2 separate regions of the Homo sapiens genome follow, and region 2 is linked to region 1. The links come from fine-mapping of genetic effects on gene expression. Tissue or cell type: whole blood. Region 1 holds a variant in brackets; the other region holds the start of a gene. All regions are shown on one strand. Distances are between the middles of the regions.

Region 1 (8,098 bases):
CAGCGGGCACAGGGCAAGGCCTGCCTCAGCCCAGTGGCGCAGCTGCCCCTTCAGGGTGTTGGCTCTAGGGGCCTGCCCGGGGGACCTGCTGAGAACAGGGCGCAGGCGCCATAAGAGAATGGGAAGGGCTGGGCCGGGTGGAGCGCAGAGCCATGTGGGGAGGGCACGAGCCCCTGTGGCCCAGGAAGCGCAGCCTTCAGGGGTGGGGAGGGGTCCTGCCCTCACCGCGCCCATGCTCGCCTCTGCCTGGGCACAGGGCTTGACAAGGCCTCAACTTTTATTGGGCTCCAAGCAGAGGAGCCCCAGATGTGTCTGCAGGCCTGAAATAAAACAAATGACTTTTATAGGAAAAGCCATATTTTTTCCACAATGTTTATCTGTCAGAAGAATAGACTCTGAGCACAAAGAGGTGCTTACTGGAAAAGATGAAAACAGTTTGCTGCCAATTTTTGCTGGTGGAAAAAAAGCGCTTTGGCGACTAATGAATAACGAACCTCAGCTAACAATGTCTGGAAGGCCCAGCTCTTGGCTCCCTGCACACAATGGGATGAATAGACATTAGGAAATTAAAACTGATTTTGTTTCTCCAAATTTAACTGTTTACACTTGAGGAAAAAAATAATTGAATAATAATGCTTCTCTTAAGCAATTCCCCCCACTGCCCCCACCCTGCCAAAAAATCATTCTTAGTGCTTTCAAAACACCCTGCAGCCAAGAGGCTGAGCCTTGTCTTGGCTAACTGGCTGGGGGGCCCCAGGGCGTGCACGATTGCACAATCAGCCCCCTGCATTGGGCAGCCCGCCAAGGGCAGGGATGGGAGCGCCCCAGCCGCCCAGCCGAGAGGCCGTAGCCACCTGCCCGGTTGGGCCTCCCCAAGCCTCACTTACCCTCTGGGTGGTCCTCTGAGGGCCGGGGAACCTTGTCTGGAGATGGCCCCCAGCCTCCCTTATCTGCCAACGGGCCCCAGAATGCCTGGGGATGAGGAGGCTGCAGGGTCCCAGGTGTGCGGCCCAGGGGCCTGGGAGGAGAGGGCGAACCAGCGGCAGAGCAGGGCTGCTCCGGGTTTGTGAGGGGCCAGGGTGAGTCGCCAGTGGGTGGGGCCTCATCAACTCCCCACGCCCCAGGTCTGAATGAAGCCAGAGGCGGCAGGACGTGAGGGGTGCCACGTAGCTCCATCACGAAGACCTGTCCTTAGCACCACTGTCCTGTGGGGCCCCATGCACCGTATCCTGACTGTGTGCCACCTTCTGGACAGGTGACACCTGGGCCCAGCAGGCAGACAGCACCGCCTCTATGTCCAGTTCTGTGGAATGCTCACAGATGCACCCCTGTCTTGGCCAGGGTCCCGATTCCCCCCTCCTCATGGCCTCCGTATACCACAGGGAGCCATGGGGCCCATCCCTGCCATCCCAATACACGCCTGCTGCCTCCTAGAGTCCCACCCTGCCCTGGGGGTCAGGCTCAGCGGCAGCTGATGGGCAGGCCACTCCGCCTGCCATGTCCACACTGACCTCTGGGTAGCCTCCCACGTCGTGCACGTCAATGCCCAGGAAGTGGCCAAGCCCGTGAGGCATAAACACGGCCCCCAGGTGAGCCTGGACCATGGCGTCCACGCTGCCGCTCAGGATGCCCATGTGGGCCAGCTCCTCCAGGTGGATGCGGTCAGCCAGGCGGTGCATGTCAGGCCACCAGACACCTGTGGGCCAGAGGGAGCTGCCGTGAGCCACAGAGCCCAGCAGCCAACACCGCAGGGCCAGGGGCTGGGAGATGTGAAGCCCTCACACTGGCTGTGGTGGGAGGGCCTGAGGTGGGGGGTGAGGGGGCAAGGGTACTACATCGGGGGCCCAGGGGGACAAGGACTAGGGTGGCCCCCCGTGCTGGGCTTTCCCAGCAAAAGCTCTGGCCCTCGGGACCCTTCTTGTCCCTCCATTCTGCCTCTAGGGGCAGGTTCCTGTCACCTGTAGCCAAGGGCCCAGCCTGGGTCTACTCTGTAGCCCATGGTGTGTCCACCCTGAACAGCCTATGCTTCTGGGCCCAGGGAAACCTAGCCAAATCCCTGGGCACCAGGAGAAACATGCACGTCTCCCCAGTAGCAGACACCAGGAGACTCTGTGGGCTCTGGCCCTGAGGCTCAGACCCAAACCCTGGCTCAGAGCTCCGATGGGGTTTTGCTGCTGTGGTGCAGTGGGGAAGCCCGAGGCTGAAAAGAGGGGTCCCTGCACATCCCAGAATGGGGATGAAACACCCCTGGAGCTGCTGCAGGGAGCAAAGGTTTCTGGGGAGAAGGTGCGGCTGGCACGGCCCCACGAGCTGGCTGGCAGGGGTTCGGGGCCCCGCCTGCCAACAGCAGGGGCACCATCTCCAGGGGAGCCAGATGTCCAACTCCCGGCTTCAAATCCAACTCATCTCTGCCGCATGTTTGTGGGGCAAAGGCCACCAAAGAGAGAACTTCCTAAGCACAGAGCTTTGGGGGCCACACAGGCTCTGTGGGGCTCTGGAGCATGGCCGCTAGGAAGGAGGCCCTTAGAGAGCTCTCCACGTAGAGCCTCAGCAGCCCACGGGTGCGCCCGTCCCATCCCCGGACTCTGTGGAATCCCAGCATCAGCCTCTCCTCATGGTAGCTTCCACTGCTGGACTTGGCTTGAGCACCAGATAAGGACTCGAGGCCGGTGAGGCCTCCTGCCCTGGCCCCATGGGGGCTGGGTTTGGGCAGGCCACGTGCTGGCAGAGGCCGGGGCCCCAGGACACTCTGGCCAGGCACGTGGCGGGGGGCCCCTATCAATGTGCAGCTCACTGGCTGGAGAGGGCGCCCAGCAAGTCCCTGCGGCACCTCCTGGAGAGGTCCAGCCCCACCAGGCGGAGTGACCTTGGCTCCCGAGGGCCTCCCTGCCAGGCTTGCCTTGGCGCAGAGCCAGAGCCTGCTCTGCATGGTCCCGATCACTGCTGTGGGAGGGGCCGGGGAGACCCTGAGCTGGCGAGGGCTGGGCTGTGAGAAGCAGGGTTCTGAACCTCTGTGGCTGGCGGAGGGCAGATGATGGGCTCGGCTGGCGAACAGGGATGAGAGTCCACACTGGGACACAGGCCATCACCCCCGACACACTGGGCACAAGTCCTTCATGTTGGGACCCCTTTAAGTGCCAGAGTTGGCCACTGTGGTGCTGGGGTCTCAGGCGGGCTGGGGGTGCACGGCTTTGGGCAGGCAGTATGGCTGTTGCCCGCCATTCACAGCACAGCGCCCCAGCCACGGCAGCAGCCTAAGGGTGGCAGGGGTGGAGATGCCCAGACCTGCCCCCACCCCCCACACAGAGCAGGGATCCTCCTCAGAGCCCAGCTCCCCATCAGCCCAGCCTCCTAGGGGCTGAGGTGGGGGCGGCCGTCCCGGGGTCTGGGGTCTGGCGTGGGGGAGGCCGTCCCGGGGTCTGGGGTCTGGCGTCGGGGAGGCCGTCCCGGGGTCTGGGGTCTGGGGTCTGGCGTGGGGGAGGGCCCGGGGTCTGGGGTCTGGCGTGGGGGAGAGCCCGGGGTCTGGCGTGGGGGAGAGCCCGGGCAGACCTGGGGCAACTCTGGCTGCAGCTGCCCTGTATCTGGGGCAGCCCTGGGCACACACACCCCTGGCTGGCCCAGCCCGCACCCCTGGCTTTTCTGAGGGGCACA[A/G]CATCCCGGAAAAGGACACCTGGATAACTGCAGCCCACTTGGCCGCTCCCCCGCCTCCGTGAGCCTCAGCTGCCGCTGGTCAAACAGCCCCACCTCCGTGAGCCTCAGCTGCCGCTGGTCAAACAAACAAACAGCCACAAGGCAGGCCCCGGGGGGTTGCTCTCAGAGCCTCTGTGTCACCTGGGGGCTGGAGGCAGCACCCCGGACAGTGGCATTGGCCACCATTCCTCCATCGCGCATGACCAGCCAGCCCTGGTTCCACACTTGACATTCACTTGTTCCTGGGGGTGTGCGCCAAGCCTGCCCAGCCTCTGCTGCTGCTCTTCTCTGAGAACCCAGCCCGGACAATCCTGGCCCACCTCGCCCTTCCTCTCTGCTGCTGCATCCTCCAGAGGCCAGACCACCCCAAGGCACACAGGCCGTTTTACCTCAGGCCCTTTGCTATGGCCTGTGCCAGGCCTTGACCTGTGATGCCTCATCCAAGGGGTCTCTGCATAAAAGCTGTCCCCTCTCAGAGGAGACCTTCCTGCCTTGCTGTCCCAGGCCTGGTGATTTCTCCTTGCACGGTCCATCCAGCCTGCAGCCGTCCCCTGGACGGATCTGCTCGTTTGCTTCTCATGTCTCACTCCGAGGGTGGGGGTCTCCCGAGGGCACCGCTGGGCCTGGCATAAAGTGAGTGCCCCTCAGGTCTCCCAACAGCCTGCAAAGTTGGCACATGGGGCTGGGAGGCCTCCTGTGAGTGGCTCGTGCCCCAAGCCCAGCTCAACTGCTTCCTCTCGGACGCGCCCTTCTCTGGTCACCAAAGGGGAGCCCCGGGAAGTGCAGCCAGCTTTCCAACCAGGCTAACTTCAGCAGTGGGCTACGTTCTTGGCCCAGCCTCCGCAGAGGGCGGGAATCAGGTATAAATCATGCTCTGCGGTGGCCCTTCCCGGGGGCAGGCCCGGCGCCGCCCAGATGTGCCGGCCCGGGGGTCCCCTTGGCGCCGCTGGTCTTCCTTGCCTGTGCACCCTCGGGGAAGGCCTTGCACACAGCTCTCTTGGCCGGGAGCAGGGAGTTTCTGCCTGTGTGTGGTTAGGGTTGTGACAGTGATTCAACCTCCAGCAACTTGGCCCCAGCCTCTGGCCCGGATGGTGGTTACGACACCCACCGCCTGGGCGGGGGCCCCTGGAGTGTGTGAGGGTCACTGTCCTTGCACTAGGCTGGCAGGGTGGGCACCAACTTGAGGGTTCCCTTGCTGGCCTGGGCCCACTCTCAGGCTCCTCCCACCCTGGCAGCCTGGAGACACCGTCAAGCTCTCTAGTCCAGGCTGGAAGGCACCCCCGGCCCCTAGCCAGCCTATACCCAGATGCCACACTGAGAATCACACAGCAGAAATTGGGCACCAGCTGCCCTGCGTGCCCCAACCCCCAGCAAGCACCAAACCTCATTCTGGCTTTCCCGAAGCACCCCTGCACCTGCCCCACCCCTCCTGGAGTCTGCCTGGCTCCCTCCTCCGCTGCACACCCCTTGGATGCCTGGGCCATCTCTTTAGAACGAACGGGGCAAACAGGGCCATTCCCGGCCCCGGACGAAGCCCAGGTTCTCAGCTTGGCCTGGTCTCCAGCCTCTCCCTCACCCACTCCTGGGTGGGGTGGCTGGACCAAGGCCACGGGTCCCAAGAACTGGCCCTCCCTACCTGCTGTTTCCTTAGCTGGGGCCACCTCCTCCAAGCCCGTTTTCCCAGATGTGCTCCCATTCCTCCTGTGGGCCTCTGTGGTGAGGCTCCTCCTCCAGGAAGCCCTCTCTGATTACCCCTTCCTGTACTTTGAGAATTCACGGAACACACAGCACAGCTGGGCCTGGTTATGACCTCTGGGCCTTGCAAGGGTGGTGCCCGTACTCTGCTCTGTGCCTGGCATGCTGCGGATGCTTGGTAAACGCCTGGAAGGAGAGGAGCCCCAGCTTCTCTCATGGCTCTCCTGCAGCCAGTGTTGTGCCCCATCCCCCACTCCTCTGTGTACTCAGACCCTAGAACGGGCAGGGTGGCCTCTAGGTTAGTGTCCCATCATGCGCCTCATGAAATGGCAGGGCTCAGAGGAACAAGCCCCGCTGCTCCTGCCACCCAGGCCCCAGGTGTGGCCAGCGTAGCCCCTGAGTGGTCTTCTGGGTCCACTTGGTCTCCTCAGGCAGCACCCGCTCCTGCTGGGCCTAGGGCCCAGGCCAGCTCCTTGGAGCCTCAAAGCATCCATCACAGCCCCGAGGCCTCCTACCCGGAGTGTGACAGCCCCAGGGGGCTCCCGGGCCTGACCGAGCTACAAAGGCAGCATCCTCAGAGCTGCCTCCAGACAAAGAGCGCACTTCATCTGTGGAACATGGCCCTCGGGATGGATGGGTGTGAGCCAGGCTCTAGGGGTGTAGGACAGCAGGCTCCGGCCGGGGTCCCAGGGCAGGCCCTGAGGGCTGGCTGAGCTGGCACGGGGCTGAGGACCTCCAGCTCACCCCACCCTGCACGGGACGTGAGTAGAAGAACCCCATCTGCTGCCAGAAATTCTGGGGACCCACTCACCCTGCGTGAGAGCAGGGTGCTGTGTTGGCCCAGGCTGCTCCTCGAGTCTCCTCCCCCACACCCTGGCAGAGTGCCCCGAGGAGTAAGAAGAGGCCAAGGAACTGGCTCACCATTGCGGCCGGCAGGAGGGGTGGACATGGTGCCCACACTGAAGACAGTCCTCCCCGTCCTGGCACCTGCCGCAGAGGGTATCTATGACTGGGGTGGCACATGGCCGCCATGCCTATCTGCCTGAGCCCTGCACTCCACGCCGTCTCGGAGGATGAGGACTGACAGGAAGTCTAGCTGCTGGGCCCCTGCCCCTGGCGCTGGCTGGGAGGGGAGCAAAGCTGGCAGAGGTGCCCCCTGACCACGGGGCCACAGGAGACACATGCCAGGTGGGCCGGGGCAGGTGCTGCTGGGCCCCTCTCCCAGCCACCTGGTCATCCCGCGCCTCAGTGCCCCTCTCTCGCCCCGTCAGGACTGTTTTGGAGGTGGGGACACTTCCTGCCACTTCTTTCCCCTCCTCTGACCTCACATTGGCAGCACCCCCGTCACTCACAAGTGGCCAGGACCCTGAGGGCAGGGACAGAGCCAGGAGCGGGGGAACGAAACACAAAAGAGCTCATGAATCGTGGGCCACCATTGCTGTTCCAGGTTGATAGGAGCTGGGCCCCCAGTGACAGGGGCACAGGAGGCTCCTGGGTGAGCACAGGAAAGAGTAGAGAAAGGCGGGGAGGCCAGGGAGGGTGGGGGGGTGAGGAGAGAGGGAGCTGGGTCGGGGCTGGGAGGCGAGGCTACAGGAGGCTCTGGGGCTTGCAGGCGGAGGGCATGGGGCCCTCAGTGCTGGGGTCCTCTGGAGCTCCAGGGTGGCTGCAGGGACTGAGCCCGCGGGACAGGGACAGCTGTGCTGCTTCTAGGAACAGCCTTCCTGCTGTGGCTGTGCCAATGCAGACCCTGACTCAGGGCCACCCTGCCGGGCTCGCCCATCCGTCCCAGCAGCGCCTCCCCCCATTCCCCTCACCATGCATGCAGGGGTCTGCATGGGGTGGGCAGCCTGCCCCAACACAGGAGCCGCGCTGAGCTTGGATCCCACCCAACCTCCCGTGCATGGCACTCCCCGAGGTCCTGCAGCTGCTGGGCCTGCCCTGCCACCCGCCTGTGGACTCCCAGCCGCCAGGGTAGGGTCTCCGTCTGAGCGAGCGCAGCCTCCTTCCTCGCCGACTGTGAATGACAGTGAGGAATGCTCCCCCACCAGCCCTAGGATCAGGGGCCAAGGCCTGCATTCCTCAACCCCCCAGGGTCCTGACCATTCTTTCCTGCCTCTCCTTTGGGCTTAGCTATGGGGTTTCCTGCTTTATTTACTCTCCCTGGAAGGTCACAGGATGCAGTCGGGCAGTCTCGGTGGGGTGTTTGTCTTGGCCCAGGAATTGAACCCACGAACCCAGGGCATTTCCGCTGGGACAAGGCAGGGGGCTGACCTGGCCACGGCCTCCTCGATGCTACGGGAGGCGACCTGCCCCATCCGGAGGGCAGCTCTGTGGGCCCAGGGCCTGCCCCACGGGCCTTCACTGTGTGTGATCCAGATGGAGTCCGACTCTGCCCTTGGGGGACACCAATGCCACACAGCTCAGTGTGGGTGGTAGGTGTGGGGGGGCTGCTGGGGGGCTGCTCCATTCCCTTACACAGGGATCCTCCAGACCCCAGGCTGGGTCTGGGCAGCAAAGCCCAGTGGTGGGTGGGAGCGGGGCTGGGGGAGGACCTGCCTCCCATGGTCTGAGATGAGCCTAGCTGGATTTGGCCTTGTGGCCCCAGACACCCCTGCCAGGCCTGAGGCCTGTGCCTGCCCCAAGAGTCAGCATGAACCAGGCAGCACCACGGGATGGGAGACCCAGCTCAGGCCTTTCTCAGTGCCACATGGGG
Region 2 (8,098 bases), 130 kb after region 1:
CCATATAATTGGGTTTTACTTTTGTAATATTATGTACTTATTTCATACATTTAAAAACATTATGCCAGCCAGGTGTGGTGGCTCATGCCTATAATCCCAACATTTTAGGAGGCCGACATGGGCAGATCACCTGAGGTCAGGAGTTCGATACCACCTGGCCAACATGGTGAGCCCCTGTGTCTACTAAAAATACAAAAATTAGCTGGGCATAGTGGCACACACCTATAATCCCAGCCACTCGGGAGGCTGAGGCAGGAAAATCACTTGAATCTGGGAGGCGGAGGTTGCAGTGAGCCAAGATCAAGCCACCGCACTCCAGCCTGGGTGAAAGAGCAAGACTCCGTTTCAAAAAAAACAAAAAACAAAAAACAAAAAAAAACCTGATGCCGAGAATGGTACGTAGGTTTCACTGATGCCCGTGGGGTCTACCGCACAGACAAGGAAAGATCTCTGCACTAGAATGTGGAGCCACTGGCCAGGTGCGGTGGCTCACGCCTGTAATACCAGCACTTGGGGAGGCTGAAGTGGGTGGGTCACGAGGTCAGGAGTTTGAGACCAGCCTGGCCAACATAATGAAACCCCATCCCTATTAAAAATACAAAAAAATTAGCCAGGCATGGTAGTGGGCACCTGTAATCCCAGCTACTCGGGAGGCTGAGGCAGGAGAACCACTTGAACCCGGGAGGCGGAGGTTGCAGTGAGCCGAGATCGCGCCATTGCACTCCAGTGTGAGACTCCCTCTCAAAAAAAAAAAAAAAATGAAATGTGGAGCCACTTCTAGACAGGGTCACACCGCTAAGTTCCCAGTAGGAGAGGCCAGCCAAGGACCAGCCACCTCCTCCCCTCAGCCTCCAGCGTGGGGCCAGGCACCAGACAGATGCTCAGGCAGCCCACTGGGCACCAGACCGTAAGCGCCAGGCTGGAGAGGGTTGCCACGGCGGAACAGGACCTCGAGGCAACTGGCCAGCAACCTCCACCTTGCACCTCTGTCTCCTGGGGCGGATAGGGGTGCCAAGCATACACAGAAACCAAGAGACAGCTGTGTGGAGTCAGGACCTGGGGAAGAGCCAGGGAAGGCACAGGGATACTCAGTGGCCAGCCTGCCTCCCATAGGCCCACCCGTCCCTAGCCCCCAGTCGGCCTGAGTCTTCTGCTCCTGGAGCACAAGGTTCACATTGTGGGGTTGGGCTCTTGACCCAGAATGTGAATTCTGCAGAAGACTCTCCAGAAGAATGCTGACTCCAGTGTAACCTACGGCTCAACAGGGGTACACGTCCAGGGCAGTTCACCTTTGCCTCTTTTTGGCTCTGCAACAGCTCCTGGGAGCCACTCAGTTAAAGAATTAAGGCTATTTCTTCATCCTACCCCTCGGAATTCTGTCCCCATTCCCCACCATGACTCCTTCCCTCAATCACTGGGAGTCTCCCAGGAAAGCAGGATGGGATGCTGGACTAATTTAGAGTAAATCCCCTTTTCATTCATTTCACCAAGCACCAATCACAGGGCAGCCACAGACTGGCCCTGCGGATACAAAAGAACCCCAGGGGTTCTAAGGATGCTAGGAGAGGCATGAAGGGAAGCAACTCCTAACCCACAATGGGCAGACGTGTAAAAGTGTACTGCTGGGGAGAAAACTGAGTGTTCTGGAGTTCTGAGCACTAAACCTTTACCCGAGGGCTGGGAAAGGCTTCTGGGAAAGGGAACCATCTGAGCTGGGCCTGCAAATACGTGAAGAATCATATAGAGGACAAGAACATTCCAGGGCTAGTTGGGTGAGTGTGCAAGGGAAGAAGGGAATGGAAAAAGCCATGTGGGAGAGCAGATGCAGACAGGTCTGGCTGGAGCTGACAGATTTCAAATTATCAATCCTGTCTGTGGAAAGCTCAAAGCATTGCTTAAGGAGACAGCAGCAGTGCCACCAAGTGCCATGGGATAGGGACCCCTCTCCATGAGGGGATGGGAGGTGACCTCAGCGCACTCTGTCTCAACCTGAAGCCTACACCCAGGCTAGCAAGAGAAAGTAGGATCAACCCTGAAACACCCCACATCTTAAAAAGAGAGATGCATTCAGAGTAGATTCTTGAGTTTCAAATTAAATCTGAGATGCTAGTTTAGGGCTTCCCCTACTCCCCAAATCATATGGGGCACACCCCAGTCACCTGGAACTCTCATGGACCCCCTCTGTCCCAGGCTCTGGTAGGATTCTACAGACAACCAAACCCAACTCCCAGTGAGCCCACGGCAATGGCCGTGACTTGCTGGCATCATGCCTCGTTATGCCTGACTCTATGATCTGTTCTGTGAGTGTGGCTAGGAGCTGAGCTTTGCGGGAAACACACTTAATCATTCTGCTCTAAAGGAAGCCACTGGGGTCAACCTCAGGCTCAAAGTACATGGGAAAGCCCCATACCAGACTGGGATGGCTCTTCCCAAGGAGACTGCCAGGCTCTGGAAGCTCCCACACCCTCTCAATAGCAGACCTCTCTAAGACCTGCCACTCTGTTTTGCCTCCCTCACCCACCCTGTGTGGTGGCCCAGAGAATCGGTTCTGCTAGAAAAGCTCTCATTCTGGGGCCAGGCGTGGTGGCTCACACCTGTAATCCTAGCACTTTGGGAGGCGGAGGCGGGTGGATCACCTGAGGTCAGGAGTTCGAGACCAGTCTGGCCAACATGGTGAAACCCCATCTCCACTAAAAATACAAAAAATTAGCTGAGTGTGGTGGCACACGCCTGTAATTCCAGCTACTCAGGAGGCTGAGGCAGAAGACTCGCTTGAACCTGGGAGGTGGAGGTTGCAGTGAGCCATCATGCCATTGCACTCCAGACTGGGCAACAAGAGCAAAACTACGTCTCAAAAAAAAAAAAAGAAAGAGAAAAAGAAAAGCTCTCATTCCAGGATCCAGTCAGTTCCAGACTTGCTCCCGTCCAGACATCAGCTTGGTTCCTTCAGGAGAGCAGCAGGTCTCAGGCCAGCTTGGAATCCTGAACCCAAATGCAACCCCTGGCACTCCCTGTGAGCACCGAGCCAGCCTAACCAGAGAGACAGCACACCCACAGCTGGGCACCAGCCTGCTCAGTCTACCCTTTAAAAGGGTCACAGGCTGGATTCAAGGATCTGACCCTGAGTTCCTTGACACCCATCTGAGACTTTGTCTGCACTGTTCTCTACCTGAAGGGAGTCTCATTGCTGAAGGACTAGCACAAAAGTCACCCAGGAAGTGAAGCCTTCCCACACTTTATCTGAGCTCAGAGTCCATGCCCCTCCTTTGCAAATGGCAAGACCACACGGCAAGCAGATGGATGACAGAGTCCCATGTGTCCATCTGTTCCAGTGGCCTGTGAGTACCTTAAGGGAAGACCCACTGCTATTCCTGGAATATAGCAGGTGCCCACAAAATATTTGATTTGTATGCTCTAAGCTCCCTCAACCTTGGGGGCCAACTTAGAACCCACTTTCTGTTGCCATTTTCCCTGTATCTTAAAAAGAGAGATGCATTCAGTCCACTAGATCCCCCATTCTGACCTCAGTTTCCAACCTGGCATCTGGAATACTGCTCCCTCCTACACCATGCCCCCTCTACCCCACTGTACCACCAGACCCACACCTTCTCCCATTGAACTCACACATAGCTCAGGGGAGCCTAATCTTTAAAAAACAGATCAAGCAGCTTGTAACAAAACCCTTCCAGCCCATCAGGGCAAAGTCTGAAGCCGCCACCTGGAACACCACACCTTCCAACCAGCCCCAGGCATGCACCCCTGTCCCCAGAACACTCTGAACTCTCAACCTTTGTCCCTTACCCTGGGCTCAGATGCTCCCTATCTGGGAGATTCCGCCCAACGCTCTGGTGAACCCATCTGTCCACCCTTCCTCCCACTACGACCACTCAGCTTTCTTTCATTTAGCCCAGTATGGAGCACCTACTGTGTGCAAGGCACCGGGCTACTGAGAAGCAGGTAACATACCTGCCCTTGCACTCTAAATGCAGAGAAGATAAAGAACAAGTACAAACAATGCTCTATATAGTTTATCAGGTGATGATGAGGGCACAAAAAGTGGGATAGATGGTTAGAGAAGGATTCCCTGAGGGGGTGACATTTGGCCCCTGAAAGAAATGGGGAAGTGCCCTGCTGGGAAAAGGGAATTCCAAGTCCGTCTCGAATACCGCCTCCTCCGGGAAGCGCCCGGGTCCCTGGGGTCCTCGCAACGCCGCCCTCCTACCCGGGGGTCTTGGCAGCGAACATGCGTGTCGACCCCAGCCCCCACCGCAGCCGCACACGGTGGGGCCGCCAGACGCGGGCAGGTGGGGCCGGAGCCAGCCAGGAGGGTGGAGAGGAGCTGCGGCCCCCGCGCTGACCCTGACTCGGAGCGTGCAGCTCGCCGACCGGCGCTGGGACTCCGGGCCAACGGGAAGAGGCGCCTACCCGCGGCATTCAGCGACCCCGGCTGACGCTCTCACCCGCGGTCCGGCCGGGACACCCATGCCCCTCTCCACGCCAGCGGGAAAGAGCGAGGGAGGCGCAGCACTCACCCGGTGGCCGCCGCCATGTTCGCCCGGCACCGGCGTCACGTGAAGTGCGGCGTCAGCTGAGCCCCTCCGGGTGCCAATGCATGGGGCGGGGTAAGGGCGGGGCAGGGGGCGGGGCATGGAGTCCTTGACCCACCTCCTCCAGAGCCAAATTCCACGGGACGGGAAGGGGCGGTACCTGGGGAAGGGCGGAGCCCCGATGGGGCGGGGCTCCCGGAGATTGGGGGCCCAAGAGCTCGGCCAGGATAAATGAGCGGGCTGCCGGCTGCAGACAGTAGGTCGGGTTAGCGGGCAGCATCTGCAGCCTTTTCGTGGTGGGAGGGAGGTCCTGAAGCAGAGGACATCTTGATTCTGGTTCAGTCCCCGATCTGGCGTACCAGCCCACCCGGGAGAAGAACACATAGGAATAAAGAAACCACGTGGGAGGAGAGGAGGGAGACTGACCCAGGCTAGGGTCGGGGCAGAGGTGGCGATTTTTGTTTAAGAAGGGAAAGGGCTTGAGCAAAGGCCGTGGGGCAACTGGAGGACTCTAAATGTGCAGCGTCCAGGAGAATGTGCGCGAGAGAGGGGCAGCCTAAGGGAAGCAAGGGCCAGACCCTGCGGGGCCTCCACTGTGGGGCCTATGAGTTAAGTCTGGTAGGATCTTTTCTAGGTTTCCTGGGCTGCAGAATGGAGAAGCTGGAGGAAGGGAAGCCAGGGAGGAGGGCAGGCGAGAAGTGGGCACAGCCGAGAAGGGTTTAGGAGGGAGAGTCTGCCAGAAGGCTTACTCCTCTGCCCCACTGGGCACTGGTACTGGGTGCAGAGTCCTGCAGAGAAGGTGTAGGGACCCTGCAGCAGACGCTGCCCTCCCTACTGCCAACAGAGTCAGGGCATTACAAGCACGGCCCAAATGCGTTGCACATGTGAGCTCATAGAAACCTCACCACAGCCCTATGAGGTCGAGACTATCTTTAAGTCTATTATACAGATGAGGAAACTGAGGCCAGAGAGTGCTCACACAGAGGCTGAGCTCATGAAGCCATACCCTGAGGAGTGACCTCACTGCCCCTGTGAAGGAAGGGGGCCCCACACTGTTGGGGGAGGGCGTCCCTGGCGCCAAGGGTGTACAGATGTGTGTGGTGTACAGATGTGTGTGGACAGGTGGATGGGTGGCCCAGGATAGGCGTGTGGGGCTCCTGACCCCACCCTGCAGCTGTCCCACAGCTGGAAGTGGCTTCTGATCAAAGGTTGTGGGTTGGGGGATGCTTCTTGTTTCTTTATCGAAACAAGGATGTGGGTCACCATGGCCAGGCTGGTGGGAGCCAGGGGCTATGACTGGAGAAGCAGCTTCTGTTTGTCCCCATGAAGCAGGGAGGAGAATAGGCCCCTTAAATAGGAGCAAGGGAGCCAGCCATAAGCAGGGTAGTGAAGGGCACGTGGCACAGTTACCTGGAAGCCCAGTACCATCCCTGCTGTCCTCATCTGTCAGGAGAGAGCTAATGGGGCCACCTCACAGGGCTGCTAGAGGGTTTTACACTCAAACCTGCAGGCACAGCCAGAGACCAAAGCTGCCAGGAGGAATGTGGCCCCTCCAGACAGCCCCTCCCACCTCCCGGTCCCAGATAAGGAAAACGAGAGCTAATGGAAGAGGGGGGGCCTCATCCCTTCTACCCCTTCCCACAACACATGGACAATTTGCAGGGGTCCCTGACCTCCAGGCAAGGTCCAAGAGGAGCTCTCTCCACCCTCTTGCCAGTTTCCAGGAAGAAGAACAGAGGTAAGGATTCACACCCCACTGCCTGGCCTAGGGGCCCCTGAGAACTTCTAACACCCCTAGTTAAGCAGTAGGTCCGCCTTCAGCTTAAGAAACTCAACTCCCTAGTAAGTGGCGCTTTAAAAAATACATAATAACAAAGGGTGAGCAGAATGAGCTTTCCATGCGCCTTCAAGGAAGGAAAACATACCCCCCAGCTCATTCATTGCACCTGCCTCCCACCATTTCTTTTGACATAAAATATGTCAAAATTAAGCCAGCTGCCAGCTCTGAGTGCTTACTAATATGAAAAAGAAGTCAATATCCCAAACACAAAATAATGGAAGGAAGGCACCCACCAACTGAGTGGAGCTCCCTTGTTTGTGGACAGTAATATGGAGGCACTGCCCATGACCCCTGCCCACCCAGGTCCCCTGCCCTCTCCCCTCCCCATCAGGGGCTCCGGCAGGGCTGCCCCTCACCCCTCACCCCTCCCCATCAGAGGCTGTGGCAGGGGCTCCAGAAGCCGCCCAGAATATGGGAGAAGACCATTTAGTTACTTATGCAGGGCAGACCCAGGACGTTGCTGGAGCCAGGAGGCAATTGGGGGAAGATTGATTTTAGAGAGTCGAAGTGGGAGTGTGTAAATCAGCCAAGGCAGCGCGCCAGGCAGCACTCTCATGCGGCATTGCCTCCGAGGTCACAGGCCCTTGTGGCCGAAACAGTCTCCTCTCGTCAAGCCCTGCAGGTGGCTGGTAGATGTCTGCACTCGGTCAGCCTGGTAGCCCGGTAGCCAGCATAGCATTATTCTCCAGAAGGGCCCCCCCAACTCCCGTCAGGCCTTGCAAAAGAAGCTTCACCCTGGGAAGACACCTCTTGTGTCCCGGGACACTGTGTCCAGCCAGGTTTCCCTCCTCCACCCATTCCCCACAATCTAGCCCCCACTCTTGCAACTCCGTGGACGCTGCTGACAGCTGGCTGCCTGGAGACGGCAGGCCCAGATGTGGCGGCCTGCTAGGCTCTGACTCATGAGCCACCCTTGGGCCATGAAGGGGAGGTCCCCGGGAAGAGCCCTGTCCATCTTCTGCTGTGGATTGAGGGCACTGGTCTACCAGAGGCTCTGTGGGACTGCACTGGAGGTAGCCTGGATGCTGGTTCTGCCCTGCACCACCCAGTTGTTGCCCACAGTGCCACTCCAGGACTGGCCATGCTGTGAGGGCCAGGGATCCAGACCCTGCCCTTGCCTAGAGGATCTTTGGTCTGGGGACAGAGGTAGAGGAGCCCTCCACACTGTCCCTGGGGAGTCCACCATCTGGGAGGGCCTCAGAACGGGGCTTCGAGGGTTCTGCTTTTGGCTAATGGGGAGATCCTGGGGGATTCTGAGCTGCAAGCTGCCGATCCAAACCCCTCTCTCCAGCAGGAGCTCAGGAGGATTAGCAGAGAGAACTGAAAAGAGCCAATAAGAGCCAATAAAGCCACTGCACGGGGCCGCCAGCCTCAGATGGTCAAAGCCCTACACAAGATGGCATTTGGGTGTTTTGCGATTGTTTGCTTTTGCTGAGAATAGAAGACTGGATGCAGAAAGCCAGCACCAAATAAACAGAAGAGGAAGAATAGAGGGGACTGTGGGTGTGAGATAGGGGCAGGGTGGCATATGGCAACCCAGTGTCTTCCCAAGTGGGAAAGCAAGGAGCGTGATGGGTGTGGAATGCCCAGGAGACCGTCTCTCTATCCTGGTTCTGGCAGATCCCAGCCTTGGGCCTTTGCAGGGCCTGCAGAGGTAGCCACAGCTCTCCCACTCCAAAGGCCTGTGTGGCCTGCTCCTTCCTCCAGGCCT

Evidence for each region. PIP is the estimated chance that this variant, and not a neighbour inherited with it, causes the effect.
Region 2: it holds the start of PEPD, and the variant in region 1 is fine-mapped to the expression of PEPD in whole blood (GTEx, PIP 0.94). The same link has a PIP of 0.9 or more in esophagus muscle.

What each region holds. Positions count from the first base shown.
Region 1 is chr19:33,389,784-33,397,881 of GRCh38, forward strand. It overlaps PEPD (peptidase D), which reads right to left. Exons shown (of 15, transcript NM_000285.4): 13 at 1,512-1,696. Among named protein-coding and RNA genes, the nearest start is that of CEBPG, 20 kb to the left of the region's middle. RefSeq lists enhancers at 1-556, 2,728-3,492, 5,480-6,309, 6,310-7,139. The variant A/G (reference allele first, on the strand shown) is at 3,652.
Region 2 is chr19:33,517,212-33,525,309 of GRCh38, forward strand. It overlaps PEPD (peptidase D), which reads right to left and starts at 4,580. Exons shown (of 15, transcript NM_000285.4): 1 at 4,533-4,580. The coding sequence starts at 4,549. It overlaps LOC105372370 (a long non-coding RNA gene), which reads left to right and starts at 4,723. Exons shown (of 3, transcript XR_935918.3): 1 at 4,723-4,803; 2 at 6,210-6,285. RefSeq lists enhancers at 3,881-4,844, 4,845-5,807 and a silencer at 4,590-4,789.